Regions from separate parts of the Homo sapiens genome. Here region 2 is linked to region 1. A link means that fine-mapping ties the variant in region 1 to the expression of a gene that starts in the linked region. Tissue or cell type: unexposed skin. Region 1 holds a variant in brackets; the other region holds the start of a gene. All regions are shown on one strand. Distances are from middle to middle.

What was found. PIP is the estimated chance that this variant, and not a neighbour inherited with it, causes the effect.
Region 2: LINC02562 starts here. The variant in region 1 is fine-mapped to the expression of LINC02562 in unexposed skin (GTEx, PIP above 0.99). The same link has a PIP of 0.9 or more in esophagus mucosa, lung, minor salivary gland and sun-exposed skin.

Annotation. Positions count from the first base shown.
Region 1 is chr4:75,076,032-75,078,836 of GRCh38, reverse strand. No RefSeq gene overlaps it. Among named protein-coding and RNA genes, the nearest start is that of LINC02562, 7.3 kb to the left of the region's middle. The variant T/A (reference allele first, on the strand shown) is at 1,460.
Region 2 is chr4:75,083,624-75,086,428 of GRCh38, reverse strand. LINC02562 (long intergenic non-protein coding RNA 2562) reads left to right here and starts at 1,721. Exons shown (of 2, transcript NR_149051.1): 1 at 1,721-1,840.

The DNA.
Region 1 (2,805 bases):
ACCAAGTTGGAAAACACTCTTCAAAATATTATCCAGGAGAACTTCCCCAACATAGCAAGGCAGGCCAACATTCAAATTCAGGAAATACAGAGAACACCACAAAGATACTCCTTGAGAAGATCAACCCCAAGACACATACTTGTCAGATTCACTAAGGTTGAAATGAAGGAAAAAGTGTTAAGGGCAGCCAGAGAGAAAGGTCGAGTTACCCACAAAGGGAAGCCCATCAGACTAACAGCAGATCTCTTGGCAGAAATCCTACAAACCATAAGAGAGTGGAGGCCAATATTCAACATTCTTAAAGAAAAGAATTTTCAACCCAGAATCTCATATCCAGCCAAACTAAGCATCATAAGTAAAGGAAAAGTAAAATCCTTTGCAGACAAGCAAATGCTGAGAGATTTTGTCACCACCAGGCCTGCCTTACAAGAGCTTCTGAAGGAAGCACTAAACATGGAAAGAAACAATAGGTCCCAGTCAATGCAAAAACATGCCAAATTGTAAAGACTATTGATGCTATGAAGAAACTGCATCAATTAATGGGCAAAATAACAAGTGAACATCATAATGACAGGTTCAAATTCACACATAATAATATTAACTTTACATGTAAATTGACTACATGCCCCAGTTAAAAGACACAGACTGACAAATTGGATGAAAAGTCAAGACTCATCAGTGCGATGCATTCAGGAGACCCATCTCATGTGCAAAGACGCACATAGGCTCAAAATAAAGGGATGGAGGAAGATCTACCAAGCAAATGGAAAGCAAAGAAAAGCAGGGGTTGCAATCCTAGTCTCTGATAAAACAGACTTTAAACCAACAAATATCAAAAGAGACAAAGAAGGACATTACATAATGATAAAGGGATCAGTTCAACAAGAAGAGCTAACTATCCTAAATATCTATGCACTCAACACAGGAGCACCCAGATTAGTAAAGCAAGTCCTTAGAGACCTACAAAGGCTCTTAGACACACACATAATAATAATGAGAGACTTTAATATTCCACTGTCAATATTAGACAGATCAAAGAGACAGAAGGTTAACAAGGATATCCAGGAATTGAACTCAGCTCTGCACCAAGCAGACCTAATAGACATCTACAGAACTCTCCACCCCAAATCAACAGAATATACATTCTTCTCAACACCACATCACACTTATTCTAAAATTGACCACATAGTTGGAAGTAAAGCACTCCTCAGCAAGTGTAAAAGAACAGAAAGAACAACAAACTGTCTCTCAGACCACAGTGCAATCAAATTAGAACTCAGGATTAAGAAACCCACTCAAAACCACACAACTACATGGAAACTGAACAACCTGCTCCTGAATGACTACTGGGTAAATAACAAAATGAAGGCAGAAGTAAAGATATTCTTTGAAACCAATGACAACAAAGACACAAAGTACCAGAATCTCTGGACACATTTAAAGCAGTGTGTAGAGGGAG[T/A]TTTATAGCACTAAATGCCTACAAGAGAAAGCAGGAAAGATCTAAAATTGACACCCTTACATCACAATTAAAATAACTGGAAGAAAGAGCAAACAAATTCAAAAGCTAACAGAAGGCAAGAAATAACTAAGATCAGAGCAGAACTGAAAGAGATAGAGACACCAAAAACCCTTCAAAAAATCAATGAATCCAGGAGCTGGTTTTTTGAAAAGATCAACACAATTGATAGACTGCTAGCAAGACTAATAAAGAAGAAAAGAGAGAAGAATCAAATAAACGCAATAATAAATGATAAAGGGGATATCACCACCGATCCCACAGAAATACAATCTACCATGAGAGAGTACTATAAACACCTCTACTCAAATAAACTAGAAAATCTAGAAGAAATGGATAAATTCCTGGACACATACACCCTCCCAAGACTAAACCAGGAAGAGGGTGAATCTCTGAATAGACCAATAACAGGCTCTGAAATTGAGGCAATAATTAATAGCCTGCCACCGAAAAAAGTCCAGGACCAGACAGATTCACAGCCGAATTCTACCAGAGGTACAAAGAGGAGCTGGTACGATTCCTTCTGAAACTATTCCAATCAATAGCAAAAGAGGGAAACCCTTCTAACTCATTTTATGAGGCCAACATCATCCTGATACCAAAGGCTGGTAGAGACACAATAAAAAAAGAGAACTTTAGACCAATATCCCTGATGAACATTGATGTGAGATTCCTCAGTAAAATACTACCAAACCGAATCCAGCAGCACATCAAAAAGCTTATCCACCATGATCAAATCAGGTTCATCCCTAGGATGCAAGGCTGGTTCGACATACACAAATCAATAAAGGTAATCCATAAACAGGACCAAAGACAAAAACCACATGATTATCTCAATAGGTGCAGAAAAGGCCTTTGACAAAATTCAACAGCCCTTCATGCTAAAAACTCTCAATAAGTTAGGTATTCATACAATATATCTCAAAATAATAAGAGCTATTCATGACAAACCCACAGCCAATTTCATACTGATTGGGCAAAATCTGGAAGCATTCCCTTTGAAAACTGGCACAAGACAAAGATGCCTTCTCTCACCACTCCTATTCAGCATAGTGTTGGAAGTTCTGGCCAGGGCAATCAGGCAAGAGAAAGAAATAAAGGATATTCAATTAGGAAATGAGGAAGTCAAATTGTCCCTGTTTGCAGATGACATGATTGTTTATTTAGAAAACCCCATTGTCTCAGCCCCGAATCTCCTTAAGCTGATAAGCAACTTCAGCAAAGTCTCAGGATACAAAATCCATGTGCAAAAATCACAAGCATTGCTATACACCAATAACAGACAAACA
Region 2 (2,805 bases), 7.6 kb before region 1:
ACCTCTTCAAGGGGAGCTACGAACCACTGCTCAACGAAATAAAAGAGGACACAAACAAATGGAAGAACATTCCATGCTCATGGATAGGAAGAATCAATATCATGAAGATGGCCATACTGCCCAAGGTAATTTATAGATTCAATGCCATCCCCATCAAGCTACCAATGACTTTCTTCACAGAATTGGAAAAAACTACTTTGAAGTTCATATGGAACCAAAAAGGGCCCACATCACCAAGACAATCTTAAGCCAAAAGAACAAAACTGGAGGCATCATACTACCTGACTTCAAACTATACTACAAGTCTACAGTAACCAAAACAGCATGGTGCTGGTACCAAAACAGAGATACAGACCAATGGAACAGAACAGAGCCCTCAGAAATAATATCACACATCTACAACCATCTGATCTTTGACAAACCTGACAAAAACAAGAAATGGGGAAACGATTCCCTATTTAATAAATGGTGCTGGGAAAACTGGCTAGTCATATGTAGAAAGCTGAAACTGGATCCCTTCCTTACACCTTAGACAAAAATTAATTCAAGATGGATTAAAGACTTAAATGTTAGACCTAAAACCATAAAAATCCTAGAAGAAAACCTAGGCAATACCATTCAGGATGTAGGCATGGGCAAGGACTTCATGTCTAAAACACCAAAAGCAATGGTAACAAAAGCCAAAATTGACAAATAGGATCTAATTAAACTAAAGAGCTTCTGTACAGCAAAAGAAACTACCATCAGAATGAACAGGCAACCTACAGAATGGGAGAAAATTTTTGCAATCTACTCATCTGACAAAGGGCTAATATCCTGAATCTACAAAGAACTCAAACAAATTTGTAAGAAAAAAAAATCCCATCACAAAGTAGGCGAAGGATATAAACAGACACTTCTCAAAAGAAGACATTTATGCAGCCAACAGACACATGAAAAAATGCTCATCATCACTGGCCATCAGAGAAATGCAAATCAAAACCACAATGAGATACCATCTCACACCAGTTAGAATGGCGATTATTAAAAAGTCAGGAAACAACAGGTGCTGGAGAGGATGTGGAGAAACAGGAACACTTTTACACTGTTGGTGGGACTGTAAAGTAGTTCAACCATTGTGGAAGACAGTGTGGCAATTCCTCAAGGATCTAGAACTAGAAATACCATTTGACCCAGCCATCCCATTACTGGGTATATACCCATAATACATAATACTATTATGAAAAGCCATGTATGTAAATGGTGCATCTCTATTCTTAATTGTTTACTTAAGATTTAGGATTAATTCCTAGAAGTTAAAGTATTTTTGTGGGCATAGTTTTAAGGCTTTCATATGTATTCTTGTATGACCCTCCAAAAACTCTGGAGAATGCATTTTCTACCGTAGTAATACCCCTAACCTGAGAAGCATAAGCTATGTCTGCCAAAACATTGTTAAATTGGTTTTTATCTCTCTGATTATTGGCAAAGTTGATCCTTCCTTCCTTCCTTCCTTCCTTCCTCCCTTCCTTCCTTCCTTCCTTCCTTCCTTCTTTCCTTCCTTCCTTCTTCTTCGTCTTTTTGCAGATTCTCCATTCAACATCTGTGCCAATTATTTTATCGGGGTGTTCATCTTGTTTTTAAAATCAAGTTCTTCTTAACATAGCAATAATTTAAATACCTGTCAATATGTTGCAAATACATTTATCCAAGTAGTTGCTATTATATATATATATATTTTTTCAGTTGAGACAGGATCTCACTATGTTGCCTTGCATGGACTGGAACTCCTTGGCTCAAGAAATCTTCTTGCCTCAGCCTCCCAAATAGCTAGGACTATATGCACATGCTACTACACCTAGTAAGTTTCTTTTTAACCTTATAATATTTTAACATATAAAGTTAATTCATTTTTAATGTATATATTAATAAATTTCCTTAGGATTTTTCCCTTTGTATTTATGCTTTAAAAACTTTTCCTACAATGAAATTACATAAATATCCACCTATTTTTTCTTATAGTTCTAAAATTAAAATTTTTTTTTGTCTGTTTTATTCAACTCTCGTATGGAAAGACCAATACAGGTATCCGTCATTACCACTGACACCTTCTGAACGAAGAGTCCTATTTAGCTTCTTGTGCAGATTTCCATATGCTCTGTCATGTGACTCCACTTATCTACTCTGGCTGCCACTGAATGAGCCAGAGGTGTGCACCTATCCCAAGAGAAACAATCTTCAGGGAACCAATTTCACAAGTCACCAGCTAGGAGGCTATGAGGTGGCCTTGCATGATAGCTCTGTCCAAATGGGAATGACTGGACAAAGAAGTCTCTTTTATAACTTGTCTTGGGATTGTAAACAAAGATATAGCTGGTTAGTAGCAAAAGGATATGACGAGAAAATGCATGCAAAATTCCCACGAGACAGAGAAAACCATTAGTAAGCAGAAGATATGAGAAAGCAGAAGCTATAAAACAGAGAATATAAAGTAGCTCGCTTTCAATAGCACCAAGAGTGTAGAAATATAATGGAAAGGTGCAAGGTCATCTGCTATTGAGGATGAACAATAGAGCAACGTTAGATGTAGAATTACTTTAGATTGCAAAACCAAAGACTTGAGAGATATCAAGAATTCAATCAGATGTCACTTTGATATTTGTAAGAGTTTTTTAGTCCTATGAAATGAAAATAAAAGATAGAAATCCATCAAATTCAGAGTGCTTTATAGTTATATGGAAACACATTTACATGTCTTAAAATCCAAAGATTGAAGTCAATTGGATGGAGGCTCCAGATTCTAAGGTAACTTGAAGATTAACAATA